Linked DNA regions of Homo sapiens. The protein of the gene in region 1 interacts with the protein of each later gene in a pairwise test. Each region holds a gene or a part of one and is shown in the gene's direction. Other genes may lie near its edges.

Region 1 (3,494 bases):
GGTGGGAGGAGAGTGAGGGATATAAAAAACTACATATTGGGTACAATGTACACTACTCAGTTGACATGAGCACTAAAATCTCAGATTTCACCACTATACAACCCACCCATGTAACAAAAAAACATTTTACCCCAAAAGCTATTGAAATAAGAAAAATTAAAAAATATATAAAATTCCTTGCATAGTATCAGCAGATTCTGGGCTTCTCAACAAGAATTGGAAGAGAGAAGAGAGAGGAAAAAGGAGCAAGAGTCATTTGTTACATTTATTACAGTCATTAATATTATTATTTTTCAAAATCCGGCTTGGGGTTCTTCAGTAAATGGTAAAATTAAGAGCATTCTTCTACAGATTACCTACTTGAGATTTTTCTTCCTTGAGCCTTGCTAATTAAAAAATATCATAAATGTTCTAACTAGGCCATTGACATTTATTTTCAATAATTGCAAGGGGACTTAAATAACCTGTTAAAGGACATGTTAATATTACTCTACACTTTAACTCACTGCGACTTGATGTTAATACTAATTTGTAGAATTAGTTACATGGAAAATAAATTAAGTTCATGGGACAAATGGGGAATCTGAGATCCCTTTTCCAAAACCCAGGGTCTAGCAGAGCATATAGGAAGTGAAGCAAACTAGCACAACCATCCAACTTAACACATTCAGTGGCATTTGGAGCTGTGGTGGGGAAAAGAGGCTCCCTAGTTAATTTCACACTTCCTCCATACATTTCAAAAAGCAAGGTGTGACTCATTTCAAAAAACAAGGTGCAGCTGGGTTTGTTAAAAAAGACTTTCCTTAGGCTAAATGCCAGGTATTCTGCAAAGTCCCTGGCTTAAGGGAGTTTTCTGTTTCCTAGTATCTGTTTGCTGTGCGGAATCCAAATCTGCTCGGTAACAGCAAGGGTTTTATGCCTCTGGTAGGATGTTTCCTGCTCTTTAAGGCTCTAGGCTTACTGGAGTTGCTGGCCTTTGTCGTTCTGAGTGTAGGCATGTTCCGGGCATGTCTGCACTCTATACGACCCAGGGAAATTTACTAAGGTGGCATCCACTGGGTACCTCATGTGTGTGGCACCCCCAGCAACCCTAGGAAATAAGAGCTGTTGTTTTCTGTGTTGGACACATTAGGGAATCAAAGCCCAGAGGGGTTACCTTGTCCCTAGACCATGCTGCTTCTCCAACAATACAGCCCAACTGTGCTGAAATATCTAGCAGGTCCTGGTGGAGGGGATGGAGGCCCTCTCGGGTCACTTTGCTACTCTCCACCAGGGCCCTCGGCCACCCCCTCCTTGCTGCGGATGCCCCAGGTTTGTTTTCTTTGGCTCCCTCATTAATGAGTTCCACAGCACAATGCTAAGTCTAGTTATGCAGCCTTAATTGGTTTAGTTACAACAAGATAATTCCTTTTTTCTTCTCTTGGAGGCCTTTCTGTTTAAAGACATTTTAGCTGGAAGATGCTAATTATCAATGAGGAGAAAATGACACCTGAAGAGTTCATTTTCCATCTTGGTCTTTGGTTTTTCCTTTGAACTCTCTTTACACGGCCCTCTTTCCCACTTCATCACTTCTCCCCCACCGTCATAAAAGAGAGCTCTTCCCTGGCCAGGCGGCAGAATTTTCTTTCTCACTTGCCAGGGAGCCATTCCTTCTGCAGCTGTCTCGCAGGCATGGACAACCTGCGCGAGACTTTCCTCAGCCTCGAGGATGGCTTGGGCTCCTCTGACAGCCCTGGCCTGCTGTCTTCCTGGGACTGGAAGGACAGGGCAGGGCCCTTTGAGCTGAATCAGGCCTCCCCCTCTCAGAGCCTTTCCCCGGCTCCATCGCTGGAATCCTATTCTTCTTCTCCCTGTCCAGCTGTGGCTGGGCTGCCCTGTGAGCACGGCGGGGCCAGCAGTGGGGGCAGCGAAGGCTGCAGTGTCGGTGGGGCCAGTGGCCTGGTAGAGGTGGACTACAATATGTTAGCTTTCCAGCCCACCCACCTTCAGGGCGGTGGTGGCCCCAAGGCCCAGAAGGGCACCAAAGTCAGGATGTCTGTCCAGCGGAGGCGGAAAGCCAGCGAGAGGGAGAAGCTCAGGATGAGGACCTTGGCAGATGCCCTGCACACCCTCCGGAATTACCTGCCACCTGTCTACAGCCAGAGAGGCCAGCCTCTCACCAAGATCCAGACACTCAAGTACACCATCAAGTACATCGGGGAACTCACAGACCTCCTTAACCGCGGCAGAGAGCCCAGAGCCCAGAGCGCGTGAGCTCCATCCGGGGAAACTGACCGGTTCCAGCCTCCTGAGCAGGAGTAGAGGAGTTTTGAAGACCTGGATATCTTATTGAACAATGATCGGCGTAGAGTGATTTTTATGTAGTAAGCCTGATAATCTTGTGATCTGAAAAACCCTAAGGGAATTCACATGTAACCTGTTGGACCCACCAGAACACTTACCTGCCAGATGAGCAGAGACTTTCACCTCCAGTTTTTTCCACCCATCTGGGAGGCTCATCCTTTGCAAACAGACAGATTATTTTGCCCTTCTCTGTCTGTTCAAGGTATTTTAAAGGGTCAGTGATTTTAAATGCATTTTTTTCAATAATGTAAAAGTGTTAATCTCTTGCCATTTTGGCGTTGAGACCTTTTCTTCTGTTGCTAACAAAACCTGTATTTTGTATAGGATCCAGTGTGATATCTGGATTCTTATTTAGAAAGATTTGTGCCAAGTAAAGGGCTTTAGTGCTCCTGTTTTCATTTCGTGTGTATATGTGTGTGTGTTTGTGTTTGACTGAAATCATGCTGTTGCAGGGACCAAAATCACTTAAATGCGGAAGGCACTGGTGTCATGATAAATGGAAAGTCACAGGCAGACAGGCTAAGTTAAGACAGTGAAGATTCCAAAAGCCAGAGCCTCCTCTTCACAGGCAAACAGCTTGTGTGACAGGGAAGGAGGGTACGGGGAGGAGGAGGAGGAGACAGCACCTCAGGGTGGACCTGAAGCAAGGCTGGGTGGGCAGGGTCTCCCTGTCCTTTGTTCTGGGCCTGGTATGAACAGGACCTTATTTAGTCCTTTCACTTACCCGTTTGTCAAATAAAAAGACAGTCTCAGAAAAAAAAAAAAAAAAAAGTGATTCGAATCCCATAAAGAATAACTAAAAGGGTCAGTGTTAGAACTGAACAATCTCTGACCCCTCCAAAGGCATTTACTTCTTCATCTTCCCCTCCTATCCATCTGCCTCCCCCCAACTCCAGATCCCCCACATGCACCCATCACACACACACCCACTCTTCATGGTGCCTTGTCTTAGGGTGGGTATCTGTAGCACCCACAGTTTAGCTCATTTGAATGGCACAGGACATTGAAAAGGGGGCTTTGAATTAAGGAGGTTCTGAAAACTAGTGAGATTTTTTAAGGCTGAATTTTTCTCCCTATGGTTATTAACCATTAGTATTTGTTGTACATGTCTCCTATCATCTTTTTTCTATTGGTGATTTTGTTTTCTTTTT
Region 2 (3,655 bases), on another chromosome or scaffold:
ATGCATTTTTCCTGGATTGGTGAGGATATTGACCTGATATAATATATTTTTTAATGTTACTCTGTAATATTTTCTTTGTTAGCAAAGTTTTGTTTTGTCTGCAAATGGAAATGTAATTTGTTGATATATACACATACATTAAAAAATGTTGATTCAGTTGTTTTTACTAGAAAGAAGACAGAAAAGGCCTACCATTGTTTAGAAACATTTGTTGAAATTACTAATTAATATAGGTTCATAAGCATGCATTGCTTTTTAACCAGCTCATATATGTGGGTAATAATACATTTGTATCTTACTAATAAAATTAACATATGAGGGTCACAGTTCATACAATACTAATTTATAACTGAAATAGTTTGATTTGTATTATAGTCAAGATGGTATGTATATGTGCATAAAGATTTTAAAAGTGGAATCACAATTATAATGCATATGACTAATGGGAAGAACTGAAGAACTAATCCTAAATTGATTTCTTGTTTCTTTTATTCTGAGTTAATTATATGTCTGCCAATAACAATGAAAATATATTTACTTGAATATTTGACTTGGCATTTATTGACCCATTTATCAAACAGTAGCAGCACAAGGAGAAACTATTAATAGAACATAATTTGAATAGAGCAGTGCTTGAGCTATTGTACAGTCATACATTCAGAAAATTTGGGGGGCATTTATTTTGGATGTTGTTTCTGGTCAATAAATGTATTTGGGAAGTACAGTATTCATTTTTTTTCTTTTATGTAAAACCCGGATAGCATGTAATTAGAACTTGAATGATAGCATTTGCCTTGCAGGGCTCAATGAGTCTTTTAAAATATATGGTTGCAAAAGTCTCAGGTTATATAGTATGAGTACTTTATGAATTGGACAGCTACACTATGCCTGGTTAGGTTTGGTAATATGAAAACAGAAAAATGAGAACATGCCCTGGATTTGCATTCATGCTTACCAATACATCCAAAACTTCTGATAGTTAAGGAAAAGTTGTATAGTATTGATGACAGGGCAAACCAAAATTAAGGACTGACAGAACATTGGTAGTTTCTTTTAAACATCTAAAAGAGCTTCTTCTATTTTTAAAAATGGCATATAATTAAAATTTTGACATTTAATTTTTATAAACATATTACATAAAACTCAATATAATGCCATATTCCCTTAAGAGGGAGTAAATGGAGGAAAATCTGAGGCTATTTTGTGAATATTTTGTTTATTTTTTCTGTTTCCAATTTTAACTTGTGTAAACACCATAACAATAATAAAAGAATATTTCATGAATTTTTAAAGGAAAATTGTATTGAAATTAAAAAGTAACTTAAGGTGGCCCCATTTACTTCTTTACCTCAATATGTATGTGTTCTTTTATTTTAATTGGTAAAAGTTAGGAAACCTCCAGAACAGCAGGCAAAGTCATATCCTTTAGTACTGTATTACCTAATTGGAGAAAGAACAAAATCACAAATTATTATCATTTATAGTATTGAAATGGAGTTTTGTAATTGGAGTGCTTTTTTCTTTCTTTACACTTAATCAAAAAAATTTAGATCCTACCAATATTTAATTTTATAGTTGGCAATTATTCATTCAACAAACATTCATTGAGCAACTGCTAAATCACACTATGAATACTTGGCAAATAAATTATATAACACCTTCCTTCCTGAATTACAGGATTGACATCAAGCAATTTCAACTATATAAACCTAACTGTAAACTCAAAATTTTTGAAGTTCTCATTTAAAGAAAAAATTTGTTTCCATTTTCTCTATGAAATTCTATAAAGAAAGCCTTATCATGTTTGTCATGAGTAATTATCCAAAACTTGGAAATAGGCAAAAAAGGTCACTGAGTGTCCTTTGAGTATTGTATTAGACATTGTCCAGTAGCTCACCTTCCTGAGGACAGTCAGGTTTATGGGGGTGTGAACCTTTGTAATGGGCTGTTTTTTCTTGGATATGCCAATCATTCTTTGACCCCAGGGCCTTTGCACTTGCTGTTTCCTCTGCTTGAAATGCTGATTCCATTAGCTGTTATTCTGTCATGCACGCTCACTTCATTTAGATCTCTCCCAGTAGAATCATGTGGGACTTTTAGTGCTAACACTAGGACAGCCCCATGCAAATCTTGATGGTTGGTTAGCCTAAGTCTCTGCTCAGTTGTCACCTTAGAGCATTATTCTTAAAGTGTGATCTCTGAGTTCAAAGGGGTCCCCAAGACACTTTCAGGGAGTTTGTAAGGTCAAGCTATTTTTATGATAATACTATACAAAGGTACCATTTGCCATCTTCTCTATGTTAATGCACACATTGACAGTGCAAAAGCAGCAGTGAGTAAAACTCTTAGCACCTTAACACAAATCGAGGTGGTGGCACCAAACTGTACTAGTAGTCATCTCGTATTCTTCACTGCCATGCACTCTCAGTAAGAAAACAAAAACCGCTAGTTTTACTTAATGTTTTGATTGAAGTGTCAAAAATATTAATTTTATTGGAACTGATCATTGAGTATATTCATTTTCAATATTGTGTACGATCACATGGGTGGTACATCTAAAGTACTTTTATATTCCGAAGTGCCACGATTGTCTCAAGAGAGAGCATGTGTGCAGTTGTTTGAGATGCAGTATGAGCTAGCTATTCTTTTTCTGAAACGCCATTTTTACTTAGATAATTGACAGTCAAGTTGTAGTTATTTAGATTTGGGTGTTTGGCAAAATTTTCTGAAAAATAAATGAAGTAAGCCTAAAATGTCAAGGCAAACATCTGACATTCTTCTTATTATTTTGCCAATGATAATATGCAAGCTTTCAAACAAAAATTAGAATTTTGGAGGATTCCTATCTATCTTGGCAGCTTGGCAGCTTCCTGGTACTTAAAGATTTTTCTGGTGAGTTCGTTAGTGATATTAATGAATATGAATGTTACTTTTGAAGCAGTATGTTTCAAGATGTTTCAGAATGTTACTTTTCAAAGCATATTATGAAATATATCAACATTTGGAGGATCTGCATAATTCAGGGAAGCAGTAAGTAATGCATAAAGTTACAAAACTGTGCATAGATAAAAGGTAGACTCAAAGTGCAATGTAGACCAATGGATTTTATTATAACATAGAATGAAAAGTTCATTGAAACGGCTTCAGATTCCACATTGCAACTAACCTTTAAGGAGCTACCACATGGTGAATTTTGATATAGTATCAAAGAAGAATATGCACAATCATTTCCAACTACATATCTGTGCACTCCGTATTCTCCAACTGAAAAACGTATTACAAAAGATTGAGTAGAAGCAGATATGAGAGTCCAGCTATCTTCTTTTTTAATTTTTTGTTTTTATTTATTTATTTTTAAGAGACAGAGTCTCACTCTGTTACCCAGATTGGAGCTCAGTGGCACAACAACAGTTCACTGCAACCTCAAACTCCTGGCCTCAAGTGATCCTTCTGCTTCAGCTTCCTGAGTAGCTGGGACTACAGGCCTCTGCCACCCTACCTGGCTAATTTAAAAAATATATTGTTTTCTAGAGACAGGGTCTTGCTATTTTGCCCAGGCTAGTTTTGAACTCCTGGCCTCAGGTGATCCTCCCACTTTGGTCTCTCAAAGTTCTGAAATTACAGGCGTGAACCACCAAACCTGGTCTCAGCTGTC
Region 3 (3,655 bases), on another chromosome or scaffold:
AGTATTTATTGATTACTATTTTCACTATCTCAGCAAGAGGAATGTGGCAGGAGAGCAGGGTGATAGTGGGGAGAAGATCAGCAAGAAAACACGTGAGCAAAGGAATCTGTGTCACGAATAAGTTCAAGGGAAGGTACTATGCCTGGATGTGCACGTAGGCCGGATTTATGCTTCTCTCTACCCAGACATCTCAGTGGAGTAAAGAGTAACAGAGCAGCATTGCTGCCAACATGTCTCGCCTCCCGCCACAGGGCGTTTTTTCTCCTATCTCAGAACAAACGTACAATCAGGTTTTATACTGAGACATTCAGTTCCCAGGGGCAGGCAGAAGACAGAGGCCTTTCTCTTATCTCAACGGCAAGGGGCCTTCCTCTTTTACTAATCCTCCTCAGCACAGACCCTTCACGGGTGTCAGGCTGAGGGACGGTCAGGTCTTTCCCATCCCACCAGGCCATATTTCAGGCTATCACGTGGGGAGAAACCTTGGACAATACCTGGCTTTCCAGGGCAGAGATCCCTGCGGCTTTCTGCAGTGCATTGTGCCCCTGGTTTATCGAGAATGGAGAATGGCGATGACTTTTACCAAGCATGCTGCCTGTAAACATTTTGTTAACAAGGCACATCCTGCACAGCCGTAGATCCCTTAAACCTTGATTCCATACATCACATGTTTCTGTGAGCTCAAGGTTGGGGCAAAGTTACAGATTAACGGCATCTTAGGGCAAAGCAATTGTTCAGGGTACAGGTCAAAATGGAGTTTCTTGTGTCTTTCTTTTCAACGTAGACACAGTAACAGTCTGATCTCTCCTTCTTTTCCCTACACCAGCCCCGCCTCTTCTACAAGTCCTCCAGCTGCCAACCACTATATTCTTGGCAACTTGAGTTCCTCACCCCTTAGCAGATGTTTGGAGTAAAACGATAACTTCCATCTGTTTTTTCAAAGATTTTCTATAATAAGCATGTGCTAATTTTTTAGTCAGAAAGATTAATGTTCAGTATTTACATCCATCCATCCATCCATCAATATTTGGCCCTTGGTCCAGAAAAATATTGTGATTTGTTGTTAACCCACAGACACGAGAGATTTAAGATGCACCTCCTTGAGTGCTGGTGTCAAATGGCTGTCTCCCAGCCCAGTCTCATTGGCTCTTATGGACGCCGATCTGCAAACCACCTCCAAACCCTCAGGCAGCTGCAGGGTCTAGCAGGCTTCCCTATCCGTGTGTTATTATGGTTTGCCCTCCAGGTCAGCATTTATGGGGAGATAGATGGGCAAGCTCTAGACCCTGCCATTTCCCTCAAACCAGTGCAGCCAAGGGGGCACACAGGATGTCCCAGCTGCTTTAAAACAGCTGCCATCTTTAAACAGAAAAAGTCAGGTTTTTTCGAGTAGTAACCAGTTTTTACCTAAGGCAGGAAGGGAGGGGACCCAGTGCTGTAAACAAACCAGAGCCTCTTGTCTCCTTTGCTCTGGCCAACCCAGTCTTGCTGACTGTGCTACTCACAAGTGCCAAGTTCAGAGGAGTGACTGCATGGCAAGGCTCTTTGGGCCACTGAAGGCACCCTCCCTGAGGCCCTTCTCTGAGGCCTTGCACTTTGTCTCCAAGCGAGAACACCCTAATGTCCTTCCCAAGAGGAAGGGTGTTTGCAGTAGACATACTGCAAGCCCCCTCCCCACGCCCTGTCTGATCTCATGGTGTGTGTGCATTGGAAGATGAGTTGATCCGGGAGGTCACCATCAACTGTGCGGAGAGGGGGCTGCTGCTGCTGCGAGTCCGGGACGAGATCCGCATGACCATCGCTGCCTACCAGACCCTGTACGAGAGCAGCGTGGCGTTTGGCATGAGGAAGGCACTGCAGGCTGAGCAGGGGAAGTCAGACATGGAGAGGAAAGTGAGTGGGGTTTACCGTGACCCTTGGTCCCATCTCTTCTGTAAACCTCAGGGCCACATGCTTATCATTCCAGCACTACATTCTGACCTCCTAAGGTGCTCTGCTGACAGTCACGACACCTGGACTTGCATCACCTCAGTGAGGGACCCCTGGTTGAGTATGATGGCCAGCCTGGTGGTCTTGGCAGAGTTGTTTCCGCTGTAGACGCTCCATGCCAGGCACTGACCTCCCACTGGGTGGCAGTATATACCCTGGCAATGTCATGTCCCATGTCCCTTCCACCCAGGCTCACACCATTCCATTCACCTGGCGACATCCCAGGATGACTGGGCATTCTCTCCTCAGATCGCAGAATTGGAGACGGAAAAGAGAGACCTGGAGAGGCAAGTGAACGAGCAGAAGGCAAAATGTGAAGCCACTGAGAAGCGGGAGAGCGAGAGGCGGCAGGTGGAGGAGAAGAAGCACAATGAGGAGATTCAGTTCCTGAAGCGAACAAATCAGCAGCTGAAGGTAATCAACGCGCAGGGTGGGGTGGAGGTGCCCCCTGCCCTGCGACCCAGCCCCACAGGCCAGGCATTCGGTTCCTTTTCCATGGCTTTTAAATGTTTGTCCACATGCACTGCCAAAGGATAAAGGAAGCTGACTTTGGTGGTGGGAGAAGGGGAGGGCTCCAGAGGGGGTCTCTACTCTCAACTCCAAATCTCTGAGGCGCCTCAGCCTGGCTCTCCAGTGGAGGATTCTTCTCCCTGGAAAAAAGTTGCCCATCCTCAAGGAAGAGGTGGATATGGCAAAAAGTGGAACTCCATTCCCCTGGAAGCTGGTATGTTGGAGCCTTTCTGGAGGGGGCTGGGCTCCAGGTGGCTTGCGTGGTAGTGCCATCCCATGGCTGTCTCCTCTGAGGCCCTGTTTCAGGGCATAACCAGGGAAGAAGTCAAAGGGCAGCAGGGCCCTTTGAGAGGAAGAACCATTTCAAATCAGAAACCTTCCCCAGAAATGTGGTCGGGGAACCCAGGCACAGGTGCTCTTCCTCGAAGTCCGATGCCAGCAGTGGTCTTTTATCCAGCTGAGGTGATAGGAGGGAGGGGGCTGGTGGACAAAGCTGGGCAGGAGGCCATGCTACAGGCACTGCAACTCCCAGCTGTTTGGTCCAAAGGTCTCAAAAGGTAGGCCCTAGATCAACATCGTCCTCACCTGGCAAAGCAAGACAAATTATTGGGCCCACCCCAGATCTACCAAATCAGAAAATTCGGGGTTGGGGTCCAGCAATGTGCTTTAACAAGGTCTCAGGTGATTCTAATGTTTGCAGAAGTTTGAGCATCACTGTTCTGGAAAGATGGCCTACTGACATTTAGTGGCCTTCTCCCATGGCCCTGGCCAAAGGACCCTGGATGGATCTCCCTCTCCTCCCTAGGCTCAGATAGAAACCTTACAATCTTGACATTGCAGGCTTGTTTGGTCTACACACCAGCAGGACTGGCCATTTGCGATAAAGAAGGCTTTCTGTTAACCACTACTGGAACTTTTCTTGTTGCACAAAGAAAAGCAAGAAACTTTCACAGCCAGAGATGAATCTGTTTCCTTAGCAGCCTCTGAGGCTGCTTTCCTTAACTGCCATATTCCTTTTTCATAAGCCTGAGTTCCTCAGTTCTTCCTGGATTAGCAACAAGAGCAAACCAAATACCTTAGCATGTTTCTAACATTTAAAAGCAATCTTGTAATCTCCAGGGTGAAAGATTCTTTAGAAGTTGGCATTTTTAAATTT

The links.
Region 2: the proteins of MSGN1 (region 1) and CCDC172 interact in binary tests that used the Homo sapiens proteins (3 or more experiments, as listed by UniProt).
Region 3: the proteins of MSGN1 (region 1) and DNALI1 interact in binary tests that used the Homo sapiens proteins (3 or more experiments, as listed by UniProt).

The regions. Positions count from the first base shown.
Region 1 is NC_000002.12:17,814,848-17,818,341, forward strand, and holds MSGN1 (mesogenin-1), read left to right. Parts: upstream 1-1,612; 5' UTR 1,613-1,671; coding exon 1,672-2,253; 3' UTR 2,254-2,951; downstream 2,952-3,494. UniProt on the Homo sapiens protein: Involved in specifying the paraxial, but not dorsal, mesoderm. May regulate the expression of T-box transcription factors required for mesoderm formation and differentiation.
Region 2 is NC_000010.11:116,327,394-116,331,048, forward strand, and holds part of CCDC172 (coiled-coil domain-containing protein 172), read left to right. Parts: intron 1-3,655.
Region 3 is NC_000001.11:37,559,843-37,563,497, forward strand, and holds part of DNALI1 (axonemal dynein light intermediate polypeptide 1), read left to right. Parts: intron 1-1,714; coding exon 1,715-1,893; intron 1,894-2,238; coding exon 2,239-2,403; intron 2,404-3,655. UniProt on the Homo sapiens protein: Involved in sperm flagellum assembly.